Regions from separate parts of the Homo sapiens genome. Here region 2 is linked to region 1. The links come from fine-mapping of genetic effects on gene expression. Tissue or cell type: whole blood. Region 1 holds a variant in brackets; the other region holds the start of a gene. All regions are shown on one strand. Distances are from middle to middle.

What was found. PIP is the estimated chance that this variant, and not a neighbour inherited with it, causes the effect.
Region 2: SFXN3 starts here. The variant in region 1 is fine-mapped to the expression of SFXN3 in whole blood (INTERVAL, PIP 0.97).

The regions. Positions count from the first base shown.
Region 1 is chr10:101,080,563-101,088,664 of GRCh38, reverse strand. No RefSeq gene overlaps it. Among named protein-coding and RNA genes, the nearest start is that of KAZALD1, 23 kb to the right of the region's middle. RefSeq lists silencers at 7,406-7,606, 7,379-7,673. The variant C/T (reference allele first, on the strand shown) is at 4,808.
Region 2 is chr10:101,027,333-101,035,434 of GRCh38, reverse strand. SFXN3 (sideroflexin 3) reads right to left here and starts at 4,201. Exons shown (of 12, transcript NM_030971.6): 1 at 3,901-4,201; 2 at 2,953-3,121; 3 at 580-743. The coding sequence starts at 740. It overlaps PDZD7 (PDZ domain containing 7), which reads left to right and starts at 4,306. Exons shown (of 17, transcript NM_001195263.2): 1 at 4,306-4,362; 2 at 5,051-5,441. The coding sequence starts at 5,216. RefSeq lists an enhancer at 3,679-3,888.

The DNA.
Region 1 (8,102 bases):
CCGGAGGAGGGGATCTGTCTCACCTTCCTGATTCCAGCTTCCCTGGCCACAGCTGAACGTGTTGGGGCCAAGCTGGCTGACTTAAGGACAATTCTTTTCCCGAGAGTTGAGAGGGATCTAGGGCACTGTCCTTTATCCCAAAGTACCTTTCCAGCCCCACCTCTGGCCTGTCTGAAGGTCTTTTTGGAATTCCTGCCTCGATTTCCCCACCTCTCAAAGAGTGCCATGAGCTGGTCCTTGCTCTACCTTCTGGGAGTGGTCAGAGGAGCAGTGGGTGGGAGCTCCGGGAGAGGAAGCCCTGCCGCAGGAGCCCGTCCCCTCATCCTGTCTCTGTCATCGTTAACAGCCGTAATTATTATTACTTGGAGAGACAGACCAGAGGTGGTCAGGGACATGGTTGGGGTGAATGAAATGAAAAAGTCCTGGGTACGTGCCGTCTCGCCAGGTTAATACTCCTGCCTGTCGGCCTGACAGCTGCAAGATTGATTACCCAGGCCTCCCGCTCTTTATAACTCGATCAGTTGAATTAATCTCTGGCTGTCGGCCCATCTGATGCCTGAATCACAAATTTAATTTGGAGGTGCACAGCTCCTCCCCCATTCCGTCTCCCCCTTCCTCCCAGCTTCCCCCCTTCCTCCCCAGCTCATCCCGTCTTCCTCCTTCCTTTTCCTTTCCCGTTTCCTCCTCTCTCCTGCTCCACAGTTTCCTGTTCCTCTCGCTCTTCCTCTTCTCTGCAGCCTTTCAAGGCCCTCAAGGGGACAGTGGGTGGAGAGGAAGGAGGGAGAGGGGGAGTGGGTTGCCCTGAGTCAGCAGCCCCCTACCCAGACCAGGAGAGGGGTCATGTGCCCCCACCCACCGGGCGAGGTGCCCACCCCAGCATGCTCCACCCCAAACAGAGAAAGAGGCTTGGCTGACACTAAGTAAGACATATTAATGTACTAAAGACTTAATGAAGTTGGGGCGGGGGGGTGAGGGGTGGAAAGTGATTGCTTTATTAGTTTATGGCCGATTAATGGGGACGCCATTACTGTGATGGAGATGGATTGCTGCTGTCAGCAGCCTGGGCCGGGGCGGCCGCCGCTCCTTTCCACGGGTGGTGGGTGCCCCAAACAGAGTCAGAGAGAACTTCATTAGAAGCATCTACAGGATCCCACCTGGGAAGGGCCCAAGGCTAAGCTGGAAGGATGGCGACAGGGACTCAGCTCTAGGCTTTGGAGGGGAATTCCAAGGGGTCAGGGGCTGGGAGCTGACATCAGTTGGGATGGGGCAGTGGGGCTGTGCGGTGGCCTGGCTCTGGACCTGCACATGCGAGGGGTTCCATAGTCACCTGGGGAAAAGGAGGAAGGAAGATAACCACAGAATAACCAGTGCCCACTTGACCTGCCTGAGACACCTTCAGGATGAAGGGAGTGGAGAACAAGGGAAGCGGGCCCCATTCTTCTGCCCTTCCTTATTGGGAGCAGTGCACAAAGACCTGGGCCCACCAGCCCAGAGGAATGGGCAACCCACCAAGCAGCAAGGCTGCCTCTAACACTAGAATCCCCAGCTCCAGGGCCAGGGACTTCCCATACTCTCTAAGTAGATAGAGGTGAAAACCACATTGCCTCAGTTACCTCTGACCACTGCCCCCAGGCAGCCAATGGGAAGCAACGCCAAGGAAGGCGAGGAGTGGACTTCGGGGAGAGCGGACCTGGCAGACACCACCCAGCTCTGGGCTTTCTCCTTCAGGACTGGAGGTCCTGACACTGGGCAAGCTAACCCAGACACACCCCATCCCTTCATGCCTCCTTCTGGGACCCTGTTTTCTATGAAGAGGGAGAGTAAATGCTGGACCCAACACAGCTCTGCTTCAAGGGGCTGCTTTCTATTTGGAAGTCTCTAGGTTCCTCCAGACCTCAGGGTCTTCTATCAACTCCTGTCTCTCAGGCATATATGACATTTTGGCATGGCCATTTTGATGCAAAAACATTAAACTTTCAGGATTTTAAAAAATCAAGTTATGTGGCCAGGCATGGTGGCTCACGCCTGTAATCCCAGCATGTTGGGAGGCTGAGGTGGGAAGATCACTTGAGGTCAGGAGTTCGAGACCAGCCTGGCCAACATGGTGAAACCCTGTCTCTCTACCAAAAACAAACAAAAAAAAGTAGCTGGGTGTGGTGGGTGGGTGCCTGTAATCCTAGCTACTCGGGAAGCTGAGGCATGAGAATTGCTTCAATTAGGGAGATGGAGGTTGCAGTGAGCCAAGATTGCACAACTGCACTCCAGCCTGGGCAACAAAGTGAGAGTCCCTCTCAAAAAACAAAAAAATCAATTGATGTTCAAAATAGACAGTGCCAGCCCCTCCCTAGCGCCTACTCTGTCCTGAGGCCCTCCCAACCCAAACCCCATTTTGAGAGGCATCAGGGATGAAGATGGATTCCATATGGGCTCAGAACCACAGCCTGTTGACCAAAGTACATAGTACCACAAACACATTTTGATGCAAGTTAGGCAAAACAATAGTGGCAAAATGATAGAGCCAAAATTCCCTCTTTGGCCTCTTTGCCTGTTCCTCACCATGTGTGTAATTCTCGCTGAGTGTGTGTGCCCCACTTACAATGAGTTACTGTACATCCAAACGCCAGTCCATGAGTCATGGCTAGCACATGGTATCATGTGTCTGCATGCCCTACAAGGGCCTGTATCTGTGTATGCTTGGGTGTCCGTCCTCATCAAGGTGCGGGCACTCCCTGCTGGGCACCGTGGTCACCACTCTTTGCCTGCTCAGGCCAAGGACCAGCAATCGGTTTAGGGGTCATCACCCAGGCACACCCCCCAAAGGAAGAGCTACCTGCTCACACTAACTGGGAAATAAATACCCTGTTTCTGAGAGTAATTTAATTATTGGCTCCTGTGGACTAGTGGGTAATTAAATTCCGTAGCTCCCAAAGTAATTAATTGCTATGCAAATAGTAATGCCCTCTGCTTTGGAGAGAAGGATCCCGGCCTGAGTTTGCCCTGCAATTAGAAGCTAATAATTACCCTGTCAGTTCCCAGCTTTTGCCGGGTAATTACCTGCTGAAGCCCCACTGGTCACTGAGGGCTATTCCCATCAACTGCCACTGTAGCTCTGGCTCTGGTGGCCCCAAAAAGCCAGAGCAGGGGACCCCCAAGAGTGCTGGTTAATCCTGAGGTTCTCCCCATCCTACACCATGTCCACAAGCCCCAGGAGTCCCATAGAGACACACTTACTTCTGACCATGGGAAACTCAGGATGGGATCTCCTTAGCCTCCCTTTGCTAAGGAAGAGGTGCCCCATCTTCTCAATGGCTAGAATCCTGTCAGATAGGTTCACCCAGGCTGGAGTGCAGTGAGCCGAGATCAAGCCACTGCACTCCACCTCCCAGGTGGAGTTCAAGCCACTTGAACCTCCACCTCCCAGGTTCAAGCAATTCTCCTGCCTCAGCCTTCCGAGTAGCTGAGATTACAGATGTGCACTACCACACCTGGTTAATTTTTGTATTTTTAGTAGAGACAAGGTTTTGCCATGTTGATCAGGCTGGTCTCAAACTCCTGGCCTCATGTGATCTGCCCTCCTCAGCCTCCCAAAACAAAGCAGGCATTTTGCAGCTTCCGCACACCTTCTCCCAGGTACTCAATAAACACTAATCTAGGTCCTGCTGTAAAGGGGCTTTGAGGATGTAATCAAAGTCCCTAATCAGTTGGCTTTAAGTGAGGGAGGTTATCCTCCATGGGCCTGACCTAGTCAGATGAGCCTGTAAAGGGTCAGGGCTCTCCCTGATGAAGGATGCTCCAAACAGCAGCTTGGTGTAGAATTGTTCTCCCTTTGCTAGGTTCTCCCATCCCGACTGCCTGTGGACAGCAGCTTTGCTAGCACCCAGGGGGTTCCAGCTTGTTCCTGATCTTTCCTTCCTGACTGCTTGCCCTACAGATATCAGACTTACTTAGCCAACCCACACAATTGCATCAACCAGTTCCTTGAAATAAAATTTGGTATGTATTTAATAAAATTTATTTTATTATTTTTAGAGACAGGGTCTTGCTCTGTCACCCAGGCTGGAGTGCAGTGGTGCAATCACAGCTCACTGCAGCCTCAAACTCTCAGGCTTAAGCAGTCCTCCCACCTCAGCCTCTTGAGTAGCTGAGAGGTGCACACCACTGCGCACCACTGCAGGTGCACAGAGGTGCACACCACTGCAGCAAGCTAATTTTTATTTTTTATTTTTTGGTAGAGATAGGGTCTTGTTATGTTGTCCAGGATAGTCTCAAACTCCTGGCTTCAAGCAGTCCTCCCACCTCTGCCTCACAAAGCACTGGGAATACAGGCATGAGCTAACATGTTTGGCTCCCCCAAATTTTTTTTAATGAGCCAGGTGTGGTGACACATGTCCGAAGTCCTAACTACCTGGGAGGCTGAGATGGGAGGATCACTTGAGCCCAGAAGTTCAAGGCTGCAGTGAGCTATGGTTACACCACCGCACTCCAGCCTGGGTGACAGAGCAAGACTCTCTGTCTAAAAAACAAAACAGGACGGGCATGGTGGCTCATGCCTGTAGTTCCAGCACTTTGGGAGGCTGAGGCAGGCCGATAGCTTGAGTTCAAGAGTTCGAGACCAGCCTGGCCAACATGGTCAAACCCTGTCTCTAATAAAAATACAAAAATTAGCCAGGTGTGGTGGCGCATGCCTGTAGTCCCAGCTACTTGGAAGGCTGAGGCAGGAGAATCACTTGAACCCAGGAAGCGGAGGTTGCAATGAGCCGAGATCACGCCACTGCACTCCAGCCTGGATGACAGAGGGAGACTCCAT[C/T]TCAATAAAATAAAATAAAATAAAAAAACAAAACAAAACAAAAAAAGTGGCTCACCAAAGATTCCCTAGCTAGTAAGTGGGAAAACAAGGTTTCTAGCCAGGCTCCCAAGTAGATTATAACTGCCCATTCAGTGTCAGGACCTGGCTCCAGGTCCCAAGTTCAAGGTAGGTTATACCTGTGCCCAATGAAAAGGTGCTTGTGGATCTCCCCAGCCATCTCATAACTCTCAAGCATCACTGTGGCTAAGCTGAGTTTTTGTTTCTGACCTGGATCTTGTCCCCTCTATCAGCCTCCTGGCCCTTTGTTCTGGGTTCTTATTGCTGTCCCTGATTCCTTCCTAAGGAGATGGGCCTGAGAGTGGCAGAGCCTATGTGCCTTCTAGGCTTTGGTCGCTCCCTTTGAGAAACAGCCAGACCCCACCCTCCAGGTCAGAAGTCTTCCAACTGAATCCCTGTGGAATATTGTCCTGATGTAGTCTCAGAGCCGAGGGACTCCCTAGGAAGCCGGATGCTGGGCAGGCTGTGGGTGGAGGGGTAGGGCTCATGGAGACTGACTGAAGGACTCTGAGCCAAGAATGGGTTTCAGGAGTCTGGGAAAGAAGTCTAGGGAGCACAGGGGCTCAGTGAGGGCAAAAATCCTCCCCAGCCCCTCAACTGGTACCTCACAGTTATCTTTCGGGTCTCAGCTGCAGGAAGCTCTCCCTCACCCACATGGGAGGGTAGGCCACATGCTCCGTGTTTCTTCTCTCCCATTCTCCGTCTTAGCCCAGGTGAGCAAAAGGGCAGAAGACCTAGGCAGAGGAAATAGACCTCACAGGTGACCAGCTCTCCTCAGTCCAGAGGACATGTCTAGGGCTGAAGCCTAGAAACGGGATGGCAGGAAGCACTATGGGCTTTGAGGCCAAAGTCTAGCCCTGTGAGTGCCTTGCCTTTGGTTCAGACACCCTAGGATTAGTGAACCATCCAAGGCAAGACTTCCGCACCACCACCAGGGAGGACAAGAGAAAAATGGGAGGCAGAGGATAGCCCTGGGAAAGCCAGAGGTGATCAACAAACAAGCTTCCTACGCTTCATATAGGGATGTGGGCAGAAACTACACACAGGGAAATACTCAAGCCTCTCCATACGAGATGGTTAAGGTCACTTGATATTGAGGGTCTCATCTATTTGGGAAAATCCAACCTGGAAGAGATCCCTTACCTCCACCGCCCAGGTTCACCTGACCTAGGCTCCCATGGCACAAGAAAAGTAATAGCGTCCCATGGTCTTGAGTCTGTGCCCTGACTTCTATTTCCAGCTTCTGCTCCAATTTAACTGCAGGAACTGGTGGGAATCATACTCCCACCTGTGCCTTTGTGAGGAGGTAATTTCTTGCTAGAGATTTTAGGACAAAAATGTCTAATCAGCCGGGCATGGTGGCTCACACTTGTAATCCCAGCACTTTGGGAGGCTGAGGTGGGTGGATCACTTGAGGTCAGGAGTTTGAGACCAGCCTGGCCAACATGGTGAAACCCCATCTCTACTAAAAATACAAAAAGTTGCCGGGCATAGTGGTAGGTGCCTGTAATCCCAGCTACTTAGGAGGCTGAGGCAGAAGAATCTCTTGAACCCAGGAGGCGGAGGTTGCAGTGAACAGAGATTGCACCACTGCACTCCGGTCTGGGTAACAGAGTAAGACTCTATCTCAAAAAAAAAAAAAAAAAAAAAAAGAAAGAAAAGTCTAATCATTTATAAGTCAGCAGTCTTCAGAGAACTCAGAGAGCACTCCGGAGGGTGGAAGCCACGTCTCCCCCATTGGACTAGAGGCTCCCTAAAAGGAGGAGCCTCCATGTCCCCTTTAAATAGGGACTCCCAAATGCAGTTGTATTTCTCTCTTATCTTCCCCCTCAGTGCCTTGCCTTGAGGTCTGCAAAACAGTGATTCTCAAAACAGAGTCCCTGTGAAGAAGCCCGGTAGGATCAGGGGTCTCAGAGCATGGCCAGGGCTGCCAGACACCCTCCACACAATATGGCCCCCTGCATAGGCTGGTGCAGTTGCTACTCCACTGACAGCTCTTTAGAATCCATTCAGAGTTTTGGCCCTGCTGTAATCTCTGGGTGATGAATATTTCCCCTAATGAACTGACAGGAATTGAATTAGGCTGGAATGCTTGTGTGCTTAGACTGTAGCTGATTAAACCCCCATCTGTGCAAGGCCTGCCTGTGAACAGCTTGTTACATACAATTTTTTAAAGGAGGGAAAAATGGTGTTGGTATTCAAGTTCTGCAAAGGAACAGGAGAGAAAGTGGAAGCATAATGTCAATCCAGGCTTTTAGCAGGATCTGGTTGCTTTTAATCTGATCAGGCCAGTACTCCCACCTTAGGGCACCTCCACTTTCCAGCCAACTTATCTCATGAGGAGGGACTTAGGCCAGGGGTCTTCAGGGCACAGGTACCTGCACCCTTCCCCAGGAGTCCTGCCCAGATCTCCTCTGAGCCCACAACTGTCTACCTCTTGCAAGGAGCATTTATTAAACAGGGAGTTGCTTTGGGGAAAGGTAGGAGAAGGAGAAGGTGTGAGAGCGAAGCCAGGCCTGTGGATTCAGTTCCCATCAGATGCAGCTCTAGCTCTTTGTTCTTCCTCCAAAATCATCTGGTCACCTTCATGGGAAATTGCAGGGAGTTTGGGGTAGGCACTCCGTCTGGGCTATTCGTGGGCCCTTTGTCAGTCAGGACCAAGGACAGCACCCCCACTATTTCAAGGATCACCAAACTTCCAGGTCCCTCCGCTTTTCCCTCTTCTTCCCTGCTAAACATTCCTCATTCTTCAAAACACCTTTTCCTTTTCCTTCTTGTTCCCTTCCTCTTATTCCTCCCTCTTCCTTCTCATTCCTTGTCCTTAATCCCAGGGACAGGGCCTGGCTTCTGATTCTTCACCACCAGGTACTTCACCCCAGGAATCCCTCAAGAAAAGTTATTTAGGCTGGGCACAGTGGTTCACGTCTGTAATCCCAGCACTTTGGGAGGCCAAGATGGGTGGATCGCTTGATCCCAGGAGGGAGAGACCAGCCTGGGCAACATGGTGAAACCCCATCTCTACAAAAAATTAGCTGGGCATGATGGTGTGTGCTGGTGGTCTCAGCTACACAGGAGGCTGAGGTGGGTGGATCACCTGAGCCTGGGAAGTCGGGGCTGAAGTTAGCCATGATCGTGCCACTGCACTCCATCCTGGGTGACAGAGTGAGACCTTGTCTCAAAAAAAGAAAAGTTATTTAAGCACCCCAAGAAGCCTATCCCACCAAACCTCTGTTAAAAG
Region 2 (8,102 bases), 53 kb after region 1:
CACCTGCCCAGCTCAGGGTAACTCTGGACAGAGAACCAGGAACTTCAGCCCCCAGTCTCAGCATAAGGAAGCTCCTTATCTTTGGGAGAGGGCCAAAGTTTCCCAGAAGTGGAGGCTCCTATTTCTATTTCCCTTATAGCCACACAAAGAGGGGTACCCTTCTGTTTCTGCCAAAATGCTGGGTCAGGGATGATGGTGGTTTCCAGTGGGTCAAAAATGGCTGCAAGCATTGCAAGAGTTTTTCCTCCCAAAGATAAGGGGATTTCCCTCCTATCTTCCTGGGACTCCACTTTGAGCACCTCTATCCTTGCAGAGGGTGACCCCGCAATGGGATAGATCCCTGTAGAGGTTTGTGATGCATAGAGCAGCCCCTCCCATAAATATCAATGCCATCTTCTCAACCCAAATGCCCTAAAATCCTTTGGGTTAAAGCTCTGTGATGCCAACAGACGGGGCTAGAGAGTGAGGGGATTGAGGGACAGGGTCACTGTCAAGCTTGAGGAGGCAGGTACAAAACATATTATATTAATCACAGAAAATGAGATCCTGGCACACAGGGTCAGATTGAGGGGTGGTCACCTGTAGTTCTGCACGATGTTCCGAGAAGCTTCCAGCTGTGCCCCGGACAGCAGCAGATTTCGAGGATCAGTAACAGTGAAAAAGTGCCGGGCTCTGCCCAGGAAAGTACTTTGGTCCCAGCGAGGTTCCTGGATGTTGATGTCTAAAGGCAATTCACCCATTTTCTGCAGGACAGAGATAAGGGTCAGAGCGGGAGTCCAAGGGTCCAAGGGCTCCAGCTAGGGGAAATCTTTGGTGCCCCTGCCCTGGCCCCTGAGCTTATCATCAGTCCCTTCAAGAGCTCAAGGTGACTAGATGTAGGGAAAAGAAAGAGAGATCAGACTGTTACTGTGTCTATGTAGAAAGGAAAGACATAAGAGACTCCATTTTGAAAAAGACCTGTACTTTAAACAATTGCTTTGCTGAGATGTTGTTAATTTGTAGCTTTGCCCCAGCCACTTTGCCCCAGCACTTTGACCCAATCTGGAGCTCACAAAAACATGTGTTGTATAAAATCAAGGTTTAAGGGATCTAGGGATGTGCAGGACGTGCCTTGTTAACAAAATGTTTACAAGCAGTATACTTGGTAAAAGTCATTGCCATTCTCTAGTCTCAATAAACCAGGGGCACAATTAACTGCGGAAAGCCACAGGGACTTCTGCCCTTGAAAGCGGGGTATCGTCCAAGGTTTCTTCCCATGCATAGTCTGAAATATGGCCTCGTGGGATGAGAAAGACCTGACCGTCCCCCAGCTTGACACCCATAAAGGGTCTGTGCTGAGGTGGATTAGTAAAAGAGGAAAGCCTCTTGCAGTTGAGATAGAGGAAGGCCACTGTCTCCTGCTTGCCCCTGGGAACTGAATGTCTCCATATAAAACGCGATTGCACATTTGTTCAATTCTGAGATAGGAGAAAAACCGCCCTATGGTGGGAGGTGAGATATGTTTGCAGTAATGCTGCCTTGTTATTCTTTACTCCGCTGAGATGTTTGGGTGGAGAGAAACATAAATCTGGCTTACATGCACATCTAGGCATAGTACCTTCCCTTGAACCTAATTATGACATAGATTCTTTTGCTCACATGTTTTTTGCTGACCTTCTCCTTATTATCAACCTGCTCTACTACTACATTCCTTTTTGCTGAAATAATGAAAATAATAATCAATAAAAACTGAGGGAACTCAGAGACCGGTGCCGGTGCAGATCCTTGGTATGCTGAACGCCGGTCCCCTGGGCCCACTGTTGTTTCTCTATACTTTGTCTCTGTGTCTTATTTCTTTTCTCAGTCTCTTGTCCCACCCTACTAGAAATACCCACAGGTGTGGAGGGGCAGGCCACCCCTTCAACTAGGTAGGTAAGCAAGGGTGTGGGGAGGAGCTGTTTCCTGGGCAATGTCCCAGCCCAGGGACCTGCAGCCACTGGAGGAGGGGGAAGGGAAGACCAGAAACAGGAAAACAGATCTCCTTGTGCTCTATCCTGGTACAGATTTTCATGAGTGAGGATTTACATATATGTGGTTGACACATAAGCAGCAACAAACATCCCAGCCACGTGTGCTACAGATGCACAAGAATATATAATATATATATTACACACCCATGCTCAGGTGAGCTTTAGGCCCCAGCTGCACTGAGACCTGGATACAAACCCCCAAGGCTGTTTTGGAAAATGGCACAAGACATCCCACACTCCAGTCCCTGATTGGAGGAGAGCAAGGCCTTACTGGCCACCCAGGGCTTATCTGTTCCAGATCTCAATCAGGGGACTCTGATGTCAGCCATGTGTGTGCATGTGGGCACGCACAAGTCCTCTCTACAGACCCATTTTTCTCCAACTCACACTGAATGACCCCAGGCTCTCCCTGGTCCCTGGCCAGGCAGGGCTGGCACAGACACTCATCCACCTCTCTCTGGGCCACTTGCCTCCGGATAAGAGCAGGATTCAGTGGCTGCTCCCTCCACCCAGCACAGAGAGGAAAGCCTGGTGCAGCCATCTGGCTGAGTTGGGCAGAATCCTACAGAATGACTAATCCTCTCCAGCCACACTTCCTCCCGCAGAGGCAGAGACGCCCTCCCCTCACACTCACATACCCACACACAAAGACACTATCATGCACACCCTGCCCAGACATACAGACAGAGTGGAGGTGTCCTGTATACACCGGCCTTCAAACACCTTTACAGGCGCACACTGTGCCCATCTGCAGACACTTGAATGTGTGACTACACACAGCCCCACCCTGACATTCCTCCCCCCAACCTCCCTTGTGCCCTGTGGACTTGGACCTCCACAGAGCCGAGGACATTGACTGCACCAGGACAGACAGTTTCAAGGCAGGCCTCCTTCTCTGACCCCCATTCCAGAACCCCGCCCGCCGGGGAGAGCGAGCACTTACGCTTTCCATCGCTCTCTGAAGCTCTCAGAACCGCCTTCCTCTCTGCCTCCGCTGTCGCCGCCGGGCCCTCCCAGCCATCACGCGGGACGTCACGCGTGACGCCGACCAGCAGGGAGGGGCAGGAGCTTCCCGGCCGCGCCCACCCGGTGGGCACGGGGATTGGCAGAACCTGAGGGCGGTGGGTGTCATTCGAGGCGATGCCCCCAGCCTGGGCCACCTGGACCAGGCCCTAAGCTGCTTCCCAGAGCCAATCCCACCTCGGGGATCAGTTCTGGCCCCCTCCCCAGCCAAAGGGAGGAGGGGCTGGAGCCGCGGGCGCTGCTCCCTTGGTTTACAGTCCCCTGGCGGGCCTCAGCAGACCCCCAGCCCTGCAGCAAGCGGTCTAGGTGCCCAGAGAGAAAGCCCCGGGCGCAGGTGGGCGGTGTGGAGGGGCGGTCCTCTGCTGGCGCGCCGGGAGGGACTCGGGTTACCGCCTGGCTTGTTTACTTGATGGCTGCCTTGGCAATGGCCTTTGGCTTGCTTGTCCCCCTGGGCTCCTACCCCAGTATCCACAAGCTCCTCTTGTAGCAGCGCGGCATTCGCATCACTTCACAGCCCCGTTCCTGTCGTGCCTGTGCCTCTTCTATGTCCCCAGCCCTCTCCCTGCTCCCCCTCTGTAACCCCTAGCTCCACTGTGTCCCTGGTCTCCTTACGCTCCCAACCCCTAGCCCTGCACCCCAGACCGTAGCCCCACCCCTGAGATGTGGAGGGGCAGACGACCCCAGGAACCTCGCGGTCTGCATCCGAGCAAGTGCATCAGAAGGATTCTTAGGATTCTTCCGGTCCTGGGACCAGCTGCCCCACCCTGCGACCATTCCAGAACTGGGTAGCCAGAGACGCCTTCTGACAGAGGAGGAGGATGCAAGTGAAGAAGGCACCCCCTCCGCCACGCACATACTCACAACTCACCCAGCCACCACACAGAGCACGCCTGCAGCAAACTCAGGCTCACGTCCCGCTCTGCCCCGTGACGTCCCTCCACGGAGGCCTCAAGGGTGCCCAGGGAGGGGTGGCAATTCCAGGAGCCCCGGTAGCTGGCTCGGCTCAGAGAAGAGGTGGTTCGAGCCGGAGGGGAACAAGCCAGACCCAAGCCCTAAATTTGCGGAATGAGCTAGGGCGTCAGAACCAGAACTGGGGTGGGTAAAGAACTCCGCTGCCCGGGACCAGGTAACGCTCGGCTGTCCCTGGCGCCTAAGGGAGGTGCCGGAATAGAATGACTGGCGGCCCTACCAGCCAATGGGAGCCCGGGGCGGTGCAGGCCAGCCCAATTCCCGCAGCCTCCGCGCAGCGTGGGTGGGGTTTGCCGGCTGCGGCAGTAGCTCTCGCCTGCGGGTGGTTTGACAAGGCTGGCGGCGCCACACCAGCGACCAGGTGAGGCCGACCAGGCACAAAGGGGTGGGGGGCCTGGAGGGCCGAGTTGATGTTGGGGTGCTTCATTCTAGGTCCCAGAGCTTCTCTGAGGGAACTGGCCCTGGGTTTTGCGCGGGATGTCGTGGGACCCCTCTCCAGCAGATCCTCCCCAAAGCTTGGGAGAGGTTCATGCAGCCTCTTTAGACCCGGAGCCGCAGCCTGGAGCCCGCGGGTGTCTGGGGGTCTTCCTGGGCCTCAGCTGTCTAAGGTCCTGAAGCCCTATCCTCGAGGCCCAGCCCGCCCCACGCAGCCCCCGCCCCACCCCGGGCCACCTCCATGCCCGCATATGCATGAGAGAGGTGATGCCATGAGCTGTCCTGACCTCTCTTTTGTCTCACACCTCTCTAAGCCCCAGGGCCCGCAGTAATCCCAACTCCACTCTCAACCTCTACTGAGGACTGGGGACGGGAGTAGATGACTCAGCCCCGAGCAGGAATGAGGGGTGAAAGGTTCCCACCTGCCTTGTATAAAGTCAGCGAGAGTCCAAGATGGTGCCTGGACGGGGCAGTTCTCTGGCCTAGGGTGAGACAGGAGGGGGGCCTAAGGCATGGGAGGGCAGGATGCTTAAACCAGGGGGAGGGGTGGAAGTTTTAGGGGGCAGCAGGGGAAACATTTACACCCCTCCCTCATCCCTGCTCTCCCTGCCCAGGCCTGGAGCTCACACTTCTGAGAGGCATCGCAAGCGAGGGCCTTCACGTTACTGAGACCCCAGCCCCGCACAGAGGCTCATGGAGCTCGAAGCACGCAGGGCTGGCCTCTCCAGAGCTAGCAGATTCCTTCTGGACCTGTAGGGTGCCGCCCTAGCCCAGCCGCCATGGCGCAGGGTTTCGCAGTGGGCTTCGACCCACTGGGCCTAGGAGACCTGAGCTCCGGCTCTCTGAGCTCCCTCTCCTCCCGAGGCCACCTAGGCAGCGACTCAGGCTCCACCGCAACGCGATACCTGCTAAGGAAGCAACAACGGCTGCTGAACGGGCCCCCCCGCGGAATCCGAGCCTCATCGCCCATGGGACGCGTCATCCTCATCAACTCCCCCATCGAAGGTAGGGGCGGGACCCAGCCACTGGCCTGGGTTGGGGAGGGTGGGGGTAGGGGACAATGGGAACTCAGCAGGAGGAGGCAGAGCCAGTATGATTGGGGGAATTCAAGAGATGGGAGTCACAGGGAGGTGGCAGGCCGCCTGGGAACCCATACACTCTTCCTCACCTGCCCTTGGCCTCTCCTCCAGGCCAATCCTGCAGGGGTCCAGGGTCGTAGAAGGGTCAGAGGAGGGAAAGAAGGCCATGGCAGCAGGGACAGGCATGCGTGTGGTATGCTAGCCCCTGGTGGACAAGGCAGGGGATTGAACTGGCCTCTCTCCCATGGGCTCTGCCCTTCTCCAGATCCATTGTGTGTACTTCTGGGGGATGGGGCAGGATAAAGAAGGACATCCTCCATCAACCAGTCCATTGTGTGACAAGCTCTGTGCTGGGCTGCGAGGAGTCAGTGCCCAAGCGGGTAGACAGAATTCAGGGCTTCCGTGCTGAAGGAGGGGAATGAAGGCAGCACAGCAAATGTTCAGAAGAGGAGGGTTGAGGGTGGAGAGGGAGCTCCATCAGGGAAGGGGAGACCTAAGCTTATGTAGTTGCTTAATGCCGCTTCATGGAGCACAATTCTATACCAGCCCTGGGGAGGTGTTACAAGGGACCTAGAGAGAAATCAGGCTCCCTCTTCACCTTCCAGGAATCTACAGTGTAGCAGGACAGAGCAATAAGAACAGCTGGTGGCAGGGGTGAGCTGTCACCAACAAAGGCTGGAAGTGAAAAGCATGGAGCATGGTAGGTGGGCACTTAGGAGCCAGCCTGGCTGTAGTGACAGATGTGAGGTGACTAACAGCTGATGAGCAAGACAGGACCTAGAATGCCAGGTGCGGAGCCAGGCCCCCTGAGTCTGAGCTTTCTGTGAGCAGGACCAGATAAATATCTCCAGCTCCTCTCCTCTTTCTTAGCCAGCAGAGCTCCCCTGGCTGGATCCCAGACTGGACTGTTCAGGCCCTGCTCCTCCCCCTCTGACCCAGCAGGGCATCTCTCTTCCCCTCCCTAGGCCACTGGAGCAGGGTGGGGCATGTTGCTCAGGGAGCAGGCTTTCCTCCACCAGTGCCCTGGCACGCTCACCCCTGTCATACACCAGTCTATGCTTCACCCTCTGGTGAGCACAGGGCACTGCTGAGGGTCACCACGGTCATTCTGGTGAGGGAGCAGAAGTCCCCAGAGGAGTTAGGAGACATTGGGGAAAAGGGAAGCAGGCACCGCATAACTGTCTTTATTAGTCCCATTCTATTAAAAGAACTATGCTATACTCCCTCTGATACACTCTTTCTGTTTCTCTCTCTCTCCCCTTCCCTTTGCCCATGTATGATGCAAGCGCTGTTTATAACGTCTTTTTTTTTTTTTTTAAGAGGGAAAGGGTCTTGCTCTGTCGCTCACCCAAGCTGAAGTGCAGTGGTGTGATCATAGCTCACTGCAGCCTCAAACTTCTGGGCTCAAGTGATCCTCCAGCCTCAGCCTCCTGAGTAGCCAGAACTATAGGCATGCAACACCAAGCCCAGCTAATTTTATTTTATTTTATTTTTTGTAGAGACAGAGTTTCACCATGTTGCCCAGGCTGGTCTTGAACTCCTAGGCTCAAGTGATCTTCCGGCCTCAGCCTCCCAAAGTGCTGGGATTATAGGCATGAGCCACCATGCCTGGCCTATACTGTCCCTCTAAAGATCCTCTTCCAGGGGTTTCATGATTGCTTTCTCCCTCTGCCTCATGCTAGCGCCACTGTGCAGCCAAGGAAGCAGCATCTCCTAGCAGTGAGGGACTGAGGAGTTGCTCTGACCACTTGGCTTCTCCTCTGACTGGACTGGGACCCTCTGAGCTCAGAATTCTCCCCTCTGCCTGAGAACAGGTATCTCCCAAGTCACCGCAGCCTGGAACCCTGCCCCATGTTATTATTTAGATCACTCCCGGGGAGTAAAGTAACTGATAAGGAATAAACGGTGACATTGCCACCTACATCGGCCCCATGAGATCCCACCAGCTCCTTAAATTCAACTGGTCCCAGAGAAAATGCATTACCTTTAATCCAGGAAAGCATTACCCTTAATGCATTTCTCCTCACTCTCCTAGTTTGACCATCCATCCATCCATTTATTCTTTCACTTATTCAAAAAAAATACCTATCAAATACCAAGCACTGTCCAACATATTGGAGATATACTAGAAGAGTATTACGAAGTCCCCACCATGATTGAACTTATGGTCTAGTGAAAAGAGACAGATAAATCACAAATAAGCGAACGACGACAAAGGATGGGAAGAGTCAGAATGTGATCATCTGATGACATGATAGAATGGTGCTTCTCAAACCTCAGATGCCTCAGAATTGCCGGGAAGGCTCATTCAGGGATAGATTGCAGGGCTCAGTCCCAGAGCTTCTGGTCCAGTGGGTCTGTGGTAAAGCGAAGGAATTCCCGTTTTTAGCAAGTTCTCAGATGACACTGACGCTGCTGATCCAGGATTACGCTTTGAGAAGCCCTACAAGAGGTACTCACTGGGAGGAAGGGAGGACACTCCAGGAAGCCTTCTCCAAGAAAGTGGTGTCTGAGCCAGGAGGGGAACGAGGAAGAGGAGCTGACCTTCTAAAGGCCTGGGCAGGAGCACTGCAGGCAGAGGGAACAC